Linked DNA regions of Homo sapiens: regions 1 and 2 are each linked to region 3. The links come from fine-mapping of genetic effects on gene expression. A gene starts in region 3. Each other region holds a variant in brackets. All regions are shown on one strand. Distances are from middle to middle.

What was found.
Region 1: its variant is fine-mapped to the expression of ASB8 in Th2 cells (Schmiedel 2018, PIP 0.95).
Region 2: its variant is fine-mapped to the expression of ASB8 in whole blood (INTERVAL, PIP 0.94).

Annotation. Positions count from the first base shown.
Region 1 is chr12:47,830,737-47,835,960 of GRCh38, reverse strand. LINC02354 (long intergenic non-protein coding RNA 2354) reads right to left here. Exons shown (of 3, transcript XR_007063292.1): 2 at 1,310-1,722. Among named protein-coding and RNA genes, the nearest start is that of LINC02354, 4.2 kb to the right of the region's middle. RefSeq lists an enhancer at 3,880-3,929. The variant C/G (reference allele first, on the strand shown) is at 2,616.
Region 2 is chr12:48,015,573-48,020,796 of GRCh38, reverse strand. It overlaps LOC105369750 (a long non-coding RNA gene), which reads right to left. Exons shown (of 4, transcript XR_944904.3): 2 at 3,516-3,653. It overlaps LOC124902927 (a long non-coding RNA gene), which reads left to right. Exons shown (of 2, transcript XR_007063293.1): 2 at 628-1,026. Among named protein-coding and RNA genes, the nearest start is that of COL2A1, 14 kb to the right of the region's middle. The variant G/A (reference allele first, on the strand shown) is at 2,170.
Region 3 is chr12:48,155,085-48,160,308 of GRCh38, reverse strand. ASB8 (ankyrin repeat and SOCS box containing 8) reads left to right here and starts at 2,794. Exons shown (of 4, transcript NM_024095.5): 1 at 2,794-2,850. It also overlaps the pseudogene LOC100421855. RefSeq lists enhancers at 2,614-2,833, 2,864-2,913, 2,934-2,983, 2,488-3,010.

The DNA of each region.
Region 1 (5,224 bases), 320 kb after region 3:
TCCAAGTCTGAACAGACTCTTTAAGAATTAGACAGATCTGAGCCAAGGGTCACAGATCCAGGGTTATTTGATCTAGGGGATGCACAAGGGGTGGATCAAGTATCAAATTTCAAGCTGGGTTGTTCTGCAAATTGTCTGAGCTGGACTCTGGGAAGGAAGGCATGGCCTCCTAGATACTGGTTGCTGAGAGGAGGAAGGCAGGAAGAAGCTCCCGTGAGCTCCTGGGGGTAGTGGGCAGAGCTCCCCTTAGACCTCCAGACCTTGGTGGTGAAAGGAGAAGTCACACATAGCCTGGTCGACAGCCCTTATTTAGCTCCGTAGGGCCTCCCCGCTGCACTCTTCACTTGCACTCAGAAGCCTACTGGGCCTCTGGAAAGGCCCATGCCACCCTGACCCAATCCCAAATCCTGGCTGGACATGGTGGCTCATGCCTGTAATCCCAACACTTTGGGAGGCCGGGGAGGGAGGATTACTTGAGGCCAGGATTTCAAGACCAGCCTGGGCAACATAGAGAGGCGGCATCTCTACAAACAAATTTTAAAAATAAATTAGCTGGGCCTGGTGGCATGTGCCTGTAGTCCTAGCTACCTGGGGGGCCAAGGTGGGAGGACTGCCTGAGCTCCGGAGGTTGAGTCTGCAATGAGCCATGATCGCACCACTGCACTCTAGCCTGGGCAATAGAGCGAGAGCCTATGTCAAAAAACAACAAAAACAAAAGAATCCTGCAGACACCTGTGAACATCTGTGGCAGCCGGCATGGGGCTAGGGCCAAAGTGAGGGCAGGTGCCCCAACTTTGTCAACTCCTGACTACTATTTCCCCATTTGCCTACTAGGCTGGCCAGATAGATCAAGCGGCCTATCAGGAAGGGCTTGGTCCCCTAAGCCACTGGCCCAGCCTGGCAAGGACTGTGAGCCCCAGGTTAAGCGTGTAGGGGAAATGCTCCTGGTATCCTTTCTGCTTCCTCCACTTCCCCTAGCCCCACTGATTTACATGTCTTTCCCTCTCCTACCCAGGAGCCCCCGGAGAGGGACAGGGAGGGGATTGTGGAGGCCCTGGGTGATAAAGTAGGGATGGGGGAGAAGTGATAAAGGGGGTGGGGGAGAAGCCAGCTGCACTTCCTCCCTGATAGGGACCCCACCCCAAGAGGCTCCTGCCTCTGCTGTGTTCACAGGAAGGACTGGAGGTGGTAGAGGAGTGGATGGGGAGGGCGGTGGGCAGGATATCAGTGGCTTCTGCAATCCTTTGCCTTGGAAGATGACAGTTCATTATTTTGTCCTTCGGTTGTTCATTCATCAGCAAATACTTACCACACTCCTCCTACCACCGCTGGCAGAGCTCTGGGCTGGGAGGGCCAAGGAGGCAGATTGAGCTCAGTAGCTCTGCTGGTCTCCCCTCCACCCCACTCTTCAGCCTTGAGGGAGGCAATGAGTGAATAAGAGATGAACTTTAACAGCAGGTCATTGGAATCCTGATAGTGTCTCTTACTGACTGTGTAACCTTGTGGGAAATGTGTGAGCTCTCTGATCTTCAGCTTTCTCATCTGTGAATGACCATGTAGAGCTGGTAAAGATAACGGAAGGAAGGCTCGCAGCACGCCGCAGGGCCTGGCCTTGTCTAGGGCAGCAATGAAGAGCAGCAGAAGTGGCATCTAGCAGGAGCAGGATTTGAACCCTGGCAGTCCCCTGAGTCGCTGTGGAACTGCTGGCTATTTGTCTGTCTTCTGTAAAGCAAAGAGAGTAATGGTACTTACTTCCTAGGTGTTGTGAAGACCACATGAGCTACTATGTAGTATTTAGAATTGCGCTTGGCATGGAGTTCGGTGCTCGGTAAATGTTAGCCTTTATTACTGTAATTTTCATCATCCTCTGGGGACCCTCTCCTCTAAAGAGATAACGTCTAACCTGATATCGTCTTCCTTATAAGCAGCTCCTCCAACACATTCCAAGTCAGGGATAGACGGGGTAGAAGCAGGGATTCACAGGTGGACCCCTCTTGTGAAAGGCCAAGCTGGCCCTCAACCCAGCTCCTAGGATGGCAGACGCACGCCTGGCCCGGCCCATGGTGCCAACAACTCCGCTTACTCCCCCAGCTCCACGGTGTTGTGCTGGTGGGTAGTGCGGAAGACCTGAGGTCTGCCCCATTATCTCCTCCTGCAAAGCCTCCTCCACCCGTTAACCCCCAACCGAGATTATAGAGCCTCAACTGTCTCCAACTGCTCTGATTCAGGGATAAGGCTGGACCTTCGAGCCCATCAGCCCCACAGTGTTGAGGGGAGGCTGCCTGGTTCCCTGGGAGCTGGCGAGCTGGGGAAGTTGGACCACGGCAGAGGCTGGGGACACCCCCCTGCCCACCTGCCTGCCTGCTCTGGTGTTGCCTCCAGAACTTGAGGAAAAAAGTGATCCTCCTCTGGGGAGAGGCCTTCCTGGGTTCACTAAGGCTCTTTTCTCCCATCTCTGTCTTTCCTGTCTACCTCGCTGGCTCCAGGCTGCTTCTACTGTTTCTACTTCTCTCTCAGGCTGCTCTTCCCCCACCCCCAGAGCCTCGAAGCTGCACACCTGTCTCCTCACATCAGATAACCCGACCACAGCAGCTCCTGTCACCCCAGCCAGGCTC[C/G]CAGCAGCCCCCCAGCTCCCTCGCCCATCGCCCTCTTCCTCTCCTGCCACCCCCACCTTCTAGCTCCCTGACACACCTACACAGCCCTGGGGAGGGACTGGGAGGGGAACCCCAAAGCCTTACTGGGTAATGAGGGTGTGAGAAGACAGCTCTTCCTACTCCCCAACATACACGCGTGCGCGCGCACGCGCGCGCGCGCACACACACACACACACACACACACACACACGGTGGAAACTCTATACCCCTGTGCCTAGTCAGAAACAGTGACGGGGAGGGACCCAGGGACCAGGCCTCGAGGTATGAGGAAAATCCATCCTGCCCAAGTGAGGGGGTTGGGGAGTCACAGAAAGGGGCAGCTTCTGGGGCTGAGGGTTCCACTGCCTCCTGTTTTTAGGCAAAGAGTTTCCAGGGCTTCATCTCCAAGTCCTAAGGCTAGAGGCCCCCAGCAGGGCCCTCCTCTGGTGGAGCTGGGCTGGGGAGGTGGGTGGGTGCCATGTGGACCTGCCCCAGCCCCTTCCCACTGTTCCTCAAGAGGCCAAGTGGGGAGGAGGTTGGGGGGTGGTTGTGGGGGCAGCGGCGCTGAGTTTGGGATGCTGGGGCTCAGGGAGACTGGGTAAGAGCTGGGCAGGACACCGTGGGAAGGGGAGTGGTGGGACCTAGGAGGGAGGGGAACAAAGACCAGGGTGCCTGGGAGCTGGAGGTTTTAATACCTCTTGACAACAAATGAATCATAGGCAAATTCTGTGGAAATGATGGCGTAAAGAAAGATGTGTTATTTCAAGGCCCCAGTGTGTTGTTGTGGGAAGAGAGTGGAACGGGGAGGAGCAGGAGGCCTAATGGCGCCTGTAGGTGGGGGCCCGGGTAGAGTTCCTGGGGGCGCCGTGAAGGTGATGGCCCCTGCATCTCATGTCACCTTCAGGGGGTGATGTGAAACAGCAGGTGGCCGACCACAGCCCGCCAACCCCCACCCCAAAGCAGAGAGGCCCTCATACCCGCTGAGCTCACCTCACTGTGATGCTCTGTTCCTCCTGCAGTCAGCCCTGTCCTCTGGGGGCTGTCCCCACAGGCGCCTGCCATGGCCTGCTCCTCAGCAGTAGTAGAGGAGACTATGGAGCTCCAGGAGCCTCCCATATATGGGAGGGAATCTGCAGTGAGCACCTGGCCATCACCCCTCACGGTGGGCTTTTTCCTATCAGGAGAATGCTGAGTTGATACCCACAGTGACCGCACCTGCCTTGCGGTCGGAGCTCAGTCTATTAAGTTGCCAGATAAATGCATTTGTGGCCTCTGGAAGGTTGTCAGGGCCCTTGCTATAGCTGAGACCCAAATCTCAGCTTCTGGTCAACCCTCATTCCCGCTCTCCGCAATGTTAAGACTCATTAAATGAGACCAAAACCATATATACCCATTCCACCCTACATAATCATTACCTATGACACATATTTCCTCTTCACCTTCTCCTCCATGCCTATATGTTTTTTAATACAGTTGCAATCATGGGGTATGTACCAATCTCTATTCTCTTGTGATGCTGTGTTGCATATAAACATCTTCCTAACAGCTTCATAGTTTTCTATTAAGTGGAAATATAGTATCATAATTTACCTCCACAATTTTCCAATCATAAGTGTTCAAATTGTCTCTAATTTTCTATATTATAGGCAGTGTGATGGGGGACATCATTAGGCACATACTCCGCTCCTCCTCCCCCAATTTTGACTATAGAAATCTAGTTTAGGATACACTGGGTGGGGTTATTGAGCCAAAGGGTAACAGCACATTATAGCTCTTACTATATATTGCCAAACTGATTTCAAAAGAGGTTACGCCATTACCGACAGCACACACACTTCACCGAGCTCTCGCTAATGTTTCAAAAAGGCACCTACCTTTGTCTCATTTTAATTGGCATTACTTTGAGGACGATCAGGTTGAACATACCCCTACCTCTGCTTGTGAGTTGTGTTTCCTCTGTACCAGGAGAGTCTGTTTCTGGGCTTTGAACTTTAGTCTCCACTGTTCTAGTGCTTCTTAACAGTTTGTGTGAGCTCTCTTTATAAGAATGATTTTAGGGCCGGGTGCGGTGGCTCATACCTGTAATCCCAGCACTTTGGGAGGCCGAGGCAGGCAGATTGCCTGAGGTCAGACCAGCCTGGCCAACATGGTGAAACCCTGTCTCTACTAAAAATATAGAAATTAGCCGGGCTTGGTGGCGGGTGCCTGTAGTCCCAGCTACTCGGGAGGCTGAGGCAGGAGAATCACTTGAACCTGGGAGTCGGAGGTTGCAGTGAGCCCTGATCATGCCATTGCACTCCAGCCTGGGCCACAGAGCAAGACTTCATCTCAAACAAAAACAAACAACAACAAAAAAATGATTTTAAAGCATTGTCAACTGCAACCGTGTGCGAGTCTCTCCTTCTTGATATTCTCTCCCACTTGGGATTCCGATGCACTTCCTCTTGCTTCATTGAAATCTGTGACTGCTCCCGGCCTGCTCCAGCTTCCACTCCTCGCCCATCTGAAGTCTTTGTTTTCTCAGGTTTCTGTATTTAGCCATCTTCCCTGCCCTCCCCTTCTCTCCTCTCTTCTCCCCTGCTCTTGTGGTG
Region 2 (5,224 bases), 140 kb after region 3:
ATTTGACCATATAAAAATAAAAAGTGTTTGCATGGCAAACAAAAAGAATAATCATAAACAAAGTCAAAAGCCAAAATGAGGCCAGGCACAGTGTCTCATGCCTGTAATCCCAGCACTTTGGGAGGCCGAGGCAGGCGGATCACTTGAGGTCAGGAGTTCAAGACAATCCTGGCCAACAAGGTAAAACCCCATCTCTACTAAAAATACAAAAATTAGTCGGGCATGGTGGTGCATGCCTGTAGTCCCAGCTACTTGGGAGACAGAGGCAGGAGATTTCGCTTGATCCCGGGAGGCAGAGGTTGCAGTGAGCCGAGATTGTGCCACTGCACTCCAGCCTGGGCAACAAGAGCGAAACTCTGTGTCAAAAAAAAAAAAAAAAAAAAAAAAGTCAAAATGAAAAATCATGAAGAATTACCTGCAACTCTTATTATAGGCAAGAGGTAATGTTCTATATAAAGATCTCATGTAAATCAAATAAGAAAGAGAACAACAGTTGAATAGAAAAGCAAAGCATATGAACCGACAGTTCCCAGAAAATGAAGCAAAACCAATACAAAAAAAAAAAAAAAAGGAAAGAAAGAAAATACAAATTAAAACCACCCTGAGACAGCATTTTTCACTTTTCAGATTGGCAAGGACCAAAAGAACTGATTACTATACAAGGAGTGGCTATGGTGGTGAGATTTGTCCTCTGCAAACCATGACGGTGGTAGCTGGCAAAGGTTTGGTGAAATAGGCTTTGGCATACATTGTTGATGGGAATGGTGCATGCAGTGTTAAAGGGAATTTATCTGTCAAATTTTTTTAATGCACTTCAATTTTGACCCAGCAATTCTGCTTCTAGGAAATTATCCAACAGATAAATGTGCAAGTGCAAAATGGCATATACACAAATATTTACTGCAGCATTATCTCAGCAAAAGGCTAGAGATAACCCGAATGTCCATCAGAAGGGGACTGCTTAAATAAATTATGGTATATCTGTATAATGGAATATTAAGCAATATTAAAATAGTGAGAATTTCAGAAACGTGTGGGTGTGGAATCTTTCCAGGACACAGAAAGTGAAAAAGTCCTGTGTAGACCAGTGTGTGGAGTATATTACCATTTGTGCCAAGAGAGGAGAGGGGTGATTTTTACCATTTGAGATGGGAGTGAGGGATGATTTTTAAACACAGTTGCTTGCATATGCTTGGAATCTCTCTGGAAGGAGACCTGAGAACTAATAATATTGGTCCTCTATGGGGAGGGGAATGAGTGGAAGCGGAGGAGACGTCACCTTTTGTACCTTTGGAATTTTTTTTTTGTTTTTGACAGGGTCTCACTTTGTTGCCCAGGCTGGAGTGCAGGGATGTGATCACAGCTTGCTGCAGCCTCAATCTCCTGGGCTCAATTGATTCTGCCACCTCAGCCTCCTAAGTAGCTGGGACTACAGATGTGCGTCACCACGCTTGGCTAATTTAAAAAAATTTTCTGTAGAGATGGGGTCTGCACTATGCTACCCAGGCTTGTCTTGAACTCCTGGCTTCAAGCGACCCTCCTGCCTCAGCCTCCCAAAGTGCCGGGATTACAAGCATGAGCCACTGTGTCTGGCCAACTACTGGAATTTTGAATTGTGTGAATGTATTGTCTATTTTTAAAATAATATTAAAATTATGATTTTCTTGTTTTAAAAAAGAGAAGAGTAAAGGAAAGAACATGACACAATAAAGGAAGAGGAGACAGGCCAAATGTCCGTTCCTTCCTTTGCAGCAGATGCAAAGTGGACCCCACTTTGTTCGTGGTGGCGGCTGAGCCTTGCTTCACTCACTTCCCACCTTTCTCCCTCTTTATGGGATTCTTAACAGCACACTCATGGAGATTTTTAAGGAGTGTGTTCCCTGCAAAATCTCAATACCAAGTGATGATTTCCGTAAGTTTCCATAAGTTGGTAAGTTCCAAGCCTTTCCTCCAAGGGGGCATGGTCATCCCTATAGATACAGGACATTAATGGCAAGCAACGCTGATGCTGGGCAGGGAATATGTACTCGCTCTGAGAAAACTGTGAGGGAATTACACGACTCTGCAGTGGAGAACACTGGAGAAAAAGGGGGCCAAAAAGATAAGAAAAGAGAGAACAAGAGAGAGAGAGAGAACAAAAAGAAGCAACTGAAAGTCTATCAATAGGCA[G/A]CTTGTACATCGATACAGGAGAAGACCATGTCATGCAGCTATTACAAAGAAAAAGGAGCAGGATCCTTGGTGCCCAGTTGTTGAAGATTGTTCACTCTCTGTGTACCTGGGGCTGTGTTCTATGCCCTGAGAACCAGATGAGTGGGAGAAACACAAGTGCAGCGAAGCCCGATCAGAAACACAAAACTCTTTGGAAAGATGTCAGCTGGGTTTGGAAGGAAAGGAAGGGGTTTCTGAAGCAGTGCAGGTGAGAGAGGATTGGGCTGGGCCAACGGTCCACATTCTGGCATGTGTTCCTAGGTCTCTTATCTCATTGCAGTATCAATATTTTGATACTATTTCAACAACAGTGCCTTATTTAAGGAATAAATCTGCAATTTCTTGAATTTTCAAATGGTTGCTTCTTTGGCTGGGCAATAACCATGTGAAAGTGTTATTATTCCACAAGTTCACCACCCTGCCTGCTGGAGCTCTCTACTTATTTGGAAAAACAGGACTTTGCACTTGAAGCTGACAGAGAAGAAGGAAGTGGACAAGTTGGAAGACCCAAGCTCTCTTTTAACCTCTTGATCAAAACTAGTGTCACCTTGGGCAACTCCCTATTGTCCCTGTCAGGGCCAGGCTCAGGGTGCACACTTTAAGAGGCACCAAAAATACTCAGTCATCAAGATACAGACTATTTTAATGTAACATTTTAAAAATAAAAATTAATGCAAAAATCTATAATGAACAAAATACCAGACATTTAAATAAATATAGGATCAATATTACTGATTCTTCCTTTTGCTGTGGGCTCCATTATGGCTGGACACAGCATTGTCCCCAAGGCCTCATTTTCCGCATCTCTAAGTCAAGAGGGTTGGACCATTTGACTGCCCAGGAACCTGCTGGGCCCCGTTGTTTTATGGCTCAGTAATGAAGTGCCACTGAAGAATGAGAGAACATTTAACAAAGTGCTAATTGTACAGCCCAGACAATAGTGCGGGTGAGATGACAGGGAGTCTTCATGGGGACAAGGGATGGCAATAGAATCCAGGCAGCTGGGGGAGATAACAACATTTGGCCAGCTTTCTCTTTGTTTCCACTGGACACAAGCTCACCTACCAGCGACAGGAGGGGGACAATGCTCCCGCGCCTCCTCCCTCTTTCTCCCCTGGAACTGTGCTCAGACCTAGTCAGGGGACAGGGAGAGCCTCATTCACATGTGGCTTATGGCCCAGCGACCTGCTGGCTAACAAAGCTTTCTAAGGATATCTGAGAGAAGCTTGGTACCCCATAGGAGGAAGGGACAGCAACAGAGGTGCCCTGCCCGGTATCCTGGGACCCAACCAGTGCTGCCCTCTCACCTCATCCCAAGATGGGCAAAGCAGCACAGCTTGCTCTCTCGTAACCTTCCTGAGGGCACCATTGTCTTGACCGAGTCCTCTAAGGCCGGCATGGAATGAATGCATGAGAACAGCTGTGAATACAAAGCTTAGGACATTCTGTGGACATGTTGAGACAAATTAGTTAATAATCATCTAGTTAGGGAATCCCATTTCCAGAGTGAATGACTTGCACCTCCCCATCACCCAAGTCCAGGATAACATTTCTCAGTGAGACTTCAAACCCATGTTCCACATGGGGGCTGCAGCTCCACCCCTTGGGACGGCCTGGCTGCTCATGCAACCCATTTCCCGAGAGGCTGGTTTCAGAATGCTCTTCCCAAATCCTCACCAGCTCAGAGATGAAGCTTCATCTCTGCAAATGTCATTCATCACTAGAAAGTGGCTGGGGCCTCTGAGGTCCTGTTCAGATCAACAGGATGAGAGAATCCCGCTCTTCAGGAAAACCCACCTCTTCTCATTGGCCCCAGTGCCCCTCGCATTCTTGCCGAGCTGCAGGAGGGCAGCTAAAGACAAGTGACATTGGAAAAAACAGTGGCCTCCACCCTGGACAGGAAGAATGGCTCCCTTCATCGGGACTGCTCTGGGATGCCAGGGTTATCCAGGTCCCAGAGTGAGGAAGTGAATCAACTCTTCCCAGCCTTCAGTCATGCAGGCTGCTTCTGTACCCTTCAGTGGTGTGGTATTTAGACACGTTTTGTGAAAACCTGATGAACATCTCACTTAGATGTTGGAAACAAACATAAGCCCCAGCCAATTCTTACACTTGCTGAGGATGAATAAGTCCCTTTGGCTTCCCAGTTAGCTGGGTCCAACAAGCGAATTTAGAGGCTAAGAAGTGAGTTGTTGGCCCTCACATGGACTTACCATCTGAGTGTGCCCTTGGCTGGCTGCATAGCTTGAGAGCAGCGGTTCTCAACCTTAGGCACAGATTGGAATCACATGGGGGGCTTAAAAAACACTGACCAGGGTCCCCCCACCAAAAAAAATTCTGATTTAATTGTTCTGGGGTGCAGTCACAACATTGGGATCTTCAAAAGCTCCCCAAGTGATCCCAATATGCAGTCAGGACTGGGAACTACTGCCCCACCCAGACCAGTGCTGAAACCTTAACATGTAAACAAATGACCTCAGGATCTTATTAAATGAAGATTCTGATTCAGCAGGTCTGGGGTGGGACCTGAACTTCTGTACTTCTTTTTTTTTTTTTTAGACGGAGTCTCGCACTGTCACCCAAGCTGGAGTGCAGTGGCGCAATCTCGGCTCACTGCTGCAACCTCCGCCTCCCGGGTTCAAGTGATTCTCCTGCCTCAGCCTCCTGAGTAGCTGGGATTATAGGTGCATGCCACCACACCCAGTTAATTTTTGTGTTTTTAGTAGAGACAGGGTTTCACCATGTTGGTCAGGCTGGTCTCGAACTCCTGACCTGGTCGTCTGCCCACCTCAGCCTCCCAAAGTGCTGGGATTACAGGCATGAGCCACTGCGCCCGGCCGAACTACTGTACTTCTAACAAGCTCCCAGGTGATGAGATGCTGCTGGTCTGCAGACCCCACTTCAAGTAGCAAGAGCACACTGCATTGTCTAACATGGTAGCTAACAGCCACACAGGCTGCTGCTTAATTAAACCTTAAAACAACTTAAACTTTAGAAATTCAGTTCCTTCACTGTG
Region 3 (5,224 bases):
AGAATGCAGAAATTGTTAGCCAGTTCAATTGCTGCACACATGAGGGCACACAGGAAAAAAGAGCTAGCCAAAGCAGTGATGCTGGGTGCAATATTCTCTTGTTAAAGAGGAAGGAAGCAGCCAGGCGCGGTGGCTCACGCCTGTAATCCCAACACTTTTGGAGACCGAAGTGGGTGGAACACCTGAGGTCAGGAGTTCGACACCAGCCTGGCCATCATGGTGATACCCTGTCTCTACTAAAAATACAAAAATTAGCCAGGTGTGATGGTGCCCGCCTGTAACCCCAGCTACTCAGGAGGCCAAGGCAGGAGAATTGCTTGAACCCGGGAGGTGGGTGGAGGTTGCAGTGAGCTGAGATCGTGCCACTGCACTCCAGCCTGGGTGACAGAGTGAGACTTCATCTCAAAAAAAAAAAAAAAAGGAAGCTTTGTCTTCCATAGAAATATATATATTGTGTATATATATGTAATATATATAGTATATCTGTAATATATAGTACATATGTAATATATATATTGTGTGTATATATATATGTTATATATATGCAACCTACAGAATGACCTTTGCACCATTGTACCATGAGAATGTTTCTATTTTGGATTGGCATGTTACTCCTGGGTTCAGTCAAAATAGACTCTTGAAACTGTAAGATTACAACTCAAAGTCTCCCAGGTAGCTGTGGTGAGACCAGAGGACCAAGTCTAAATGAAGTCAGTGAAGAGTGGAGGACGCTCATGGAAGGACACAGCAAGGGAGGCACAGCCAGTGCATCTCCCATTATGAATGGGCCCTCCCAGCAGCTTTATTGGCTCTCCAGTGTTTTGGACCCTTGCTCATACAGGCTGTGGAACTGAATTTCACAGAAAAGAATAATTTTTATAGCACTTTGGCTTCTCTCTTCTTGAGTTATTTGCTCTTCTGTGTTCTTGGTGGCTGATGATAGTCAGATTAGGCTCTCTGCCATTCAAAGTTTATCTTTGTACTTGAAAGCATAAGTTTTGTCTTCTTTGTTAATGAATATCACTGTCAGGCTTGCTCCACTGCCCTATCAGCAGGTACTGATTTGACTAATAAAGATGAGATCTATTGTTTGGGGGGAAAAAAAGTTAGTTTGATTTCTCTAGGGGTCTCTTATGTGATTTTTAGCTAAGTGATGGGCTAGGTTTTCAATGACATGCCAAATGGAAATAAGAAGATATTGATCATGAGTGTGACATAGAGTAGTTTTCTGCATATACTGAGTTGCAGGCCAAGTAAAATAAAAGTGTACTCAGTTTTTCAATAAATAAGTAAAATAACCTGTATTGAGAGCCTATTTTATCACTCCCTGGGAGACTCCGCTCATTCTTACATTTGTAAGATGCTGATGGTTTCCCAGAATTTATATACTTCAGCATTTCCCAACCAAGAAATTTGAGAGATGTGGTCCAGTGTGGTGACTCATGCCTGTAATCCCAGCACTTTGGGAGGCCGAGGAGGGTGGATCACCTGAGGTCAGGAGTTTGAGACCAGCCTGGCCAACATGGTGAAACCCCATCTCTAATAAAAATACAAAAAAAAAATTAGCCAGGTGTGGTGGCAGGTGACTGTAGTCTCAGTTACTCAGGAGGCTGAGGCAGGAGAATCACTTGAACCCGGAAGGCTGAGGTTGCAGCCAGCCGAGATCACGCCATTGCACTCCAGCCTGGGTGAGAAGAGCGAAACTACATCTCAAAAATAAATAATGATGATGATAATAATAATAATAATAATAATAATAATAAAAACATTGCCAACATTTGCAACTTGGAAAAATTCACTTTTTAAAAAAAATCTGTATTTCAGCTTCTTTTGAAAAATGGACGATCTCACCATGGTGCAGTGGCAGGAAGTGGAGGGCATATTCCTACCTGGCAAAATTCCTTTGAGTCTGGAGCTCAAAGGAGGCCCACTCCTCAGACCAGGTCATGAACTTTCAGTTTACCATCCTCTTACTGATGTACATGATCTGTCTGGGCCTGCTTTAAATCTCTAATTGGTTAGATTTGGTTGCTTAGAACAAGCTCTGGGGAGTAGGTGTGGGGCACTCTGGTTAAACAGGCTACCGGGCAGACCACAACTCTTGCAGTCTGCCTAAATGGGCTGCTGCTTCACTCCTTCCATGCACCACCACCATGTGCTGCTGACTTCAAAATGTTTATGCTTTGCACAGAAAGTCTGTCACTCAGAGGTGTCATCATGTTTTTGTGCGGGAAGTTTCATTAACCCTAATAAGAGTTATAAAGGTCATTTATTCCTCTACATTTAGAATACTACACCTCTTGGGTGGTTGAGTTTGTCTTTGATATGGTTTACTTGAAGGAGGGTGGACATGTACAGGAGGGTTCTAAGGAGCATAGATTCGTTCCACCATTATGAATAATGCTGTAAGTATTTTTGTCAAAGACACTTCCTACTAAGAGTTTAGTCTCCTAAGCAACTGAACCATTGTGGATGGACCCCTGCTGGCCTGGTCCACGCAGGTGCAACCATATAGAATCGGCCCAACACTCAGGGTTCCTGAGCTTTTTTATCCCCGCTGCAGGACCAAGACCCGAACCCTGCGGCTGTGGCCGAGAACGCTGCACTGAGCCTGCGCGCAAAGCCTCTGAGTAAAAGGAGAAAGTAACCCCCTAACTAGGCCTCTGGAGGGCGAAAGCTGCTGCACAAGTCTGCGCAGGCGCGCCCCGCTGACGAACACTCATCAGTGCGCAGGCGCCCATCTTAGTTGGTCTTCTAGTCCGGTAAACAGAGGGCCTGCCCCCGACAGCTTCTGCTTCCGGGTCACGCCTTGACAGCGGCTTTCAACCCCCACCTCAGCCCAGCAATTCGGTGAGTGCGGTCCTTGGAGTGGGTCTACAGCCAGGTTTCCTAACCCAGGGTACCACGCCCAATAACGCTTCCTCTACTCCCTGGTCGAAGTGCTCTAGTTCTCGAGGCTGAGACTTATTTCCGGGCCTTAGAAGGCAGATCGAAGAGGGGGTTGGTCCGCGTCTGAGGCCCCCCAGCGCAAATTGCGTGATTCTCTTTCAGTACCGGACCTACCGGGATTGCTGCGATCTGTTTAGAGCCCGTGCAGAAAGTGACACCGCACGTCCTTGCGTTTCGTGCCCTTGCCCCCCGCCCCCTAGCCTCAGCGAGACAGCTGCCGCGGGCCCTCCCGCAGCAGGTGCGGTGGGGATTACGGGCGCTGCAGGCTCGGCCAAGGTTCTCCCGGGGCGGGAGGGGGCGGGGCCGAGGCCTCCCTCGCATCAGAGCTGTTGTGTCTTCTCTTTTCCAGTTTGCTTTTTTTTTTTTTTTTTTTCAGCTTCTCAGTAAGTGCCCTTTGGTGTTTTCTCTGGATCCCGTAGCAAAAGAAAACGAGGGAGACAGGGCTTTCAGCTCTAGCAGAGGAAAGGGCCTTCCAAGGGGATCAAACCTTACACGGGCTGCTGTCTAGTGAGATCGAATTTAGCTTTCCTTGACCATTCCTGAAGTGAATGCTGTCTGCCCTGAAGTTTCATTCCTTTACCGGGAGCTTCCAGGCAGCAGCAGACCACTGACCATACTCTCAGGAGTTCTTAGCCCAGAGCCCAAGAGCGCCCGGGAAATTAGTTCAGGATTTAGTTTCATCCGATTATCATGGCCCAGAAATGGTTAACAAAACGACTTTATTTATTTATTTTAATTTTTGAATTTTTTTGTAGAGACGATTGGGTTTTGGGGTCGTCTCGCCATGTTGCTCAGGCTGGTCTTGAACTTCCAGGTTCAAGAGTTCCTCCTGCCTTGGCCTCCCAAAGTGCTGGGATTACAGGCAACAGAACCACTTTGGTCCAAGCCTCCTGCTTTAGATGCTCTGTCTTCTGCTGCCATTCTTGGAATTACCAACTCAAATGCACTTGTCTTTTTTTTTCCTTGAAACAAAAAAATTATAAGATACAGATACTTGTCTCAGAGCAGTTTAGTGGCTACTGGAGAGATTAAAACACATGCCAAATCTAAACTATCTAGAAAATGTCATAGAGACATATAAACAAGTGTGTCAGCTTATCCGTGCATGATAACGGGAGAAAAATACCTAATTTGAATTATCGATACATATGAATATTTTTACTTGCATTCTTTTAATGGAATTTACATCTACTATAAATGGCTACTGATTCACAAAATAGAAACTATCAGAATTTATAGTATATAATATATAAAGGGATACACAATCACAAAAAGCAAAAATAGGCCGGGCATGGTGGCTCATGTCTGTAATCCCAGCACTCTGGGAGGCCAAAGCAGGTGGATGACCTGAGGTCAGGAGTTTGAGACCAGTTTGGCCAACATGGTGAAACCCTGTCTCTACTAAACATACAAAAATTAGCTGGGCGTGATGGTGCACACCTGTAAATCCCAGCTACTCAGGAGGCTGAGGAACGTGAATTGCTTGAGCCTGGGAGGCTGAGGTTGCAGTGAGCTGAGATCGCACCACTGCACTCCAGCCTAGATGACAGAGTGAGACTCCGCCTCAAAAAAAAAAAAATAAAGCAAAAGACTATATATACATATATATATATATATTTTTTTTTTTTTTGAGATGGAGTCTCACTCTGTCATCTAGGCTGGAGTGCAGTGGCGCGATCTCAGCTCACTGCAACCGCCACCTCCCAGGTTCAAGCGATTCTCCTGCCTCAGCCTCCCAAGTGGCTGGGACTACCAGGGGTGGTGCATGCCACCATGCCTGGCTAATTTTTTTGTATTTTCAGTAGAGACGGGGTTTCACCATGTTGGCCAGGCTAGTCTCGAACTGCTGACCTCAAGTGATCCGCCCATCTCGGCCTCCCAAAGTGCTGGGATTACAGGCGTGAGCCATCGCGCCCCGCCAAAACATTATATATTATTAAATGACCAAAACAATTTCATATGGGTAATGTGCTTATTTATTTCAAGTCTTGAATTTCTTAGGATCTAAAGTAATAAACTTTACATTGGTTCAACAGATGTTAAGAACCTACCATGTGTTCAGGTACTATTGAAAAAATCAGTATCGTTATTCCCAAAGAGCTTATAATAAGAACACAGATTTCTAAGCAGTTGCACCTAGAGAGCTGATACTGTGTATTATATTTTCCCTATTGTTTTTGATATGTACTGTTTCATAGAAGTGTTCTACCTTATTGGCTGTAATTTTAAATGGTCCCTAACTCTTGTCTCTTATACAGCCAAGCCTTTTAAGTTG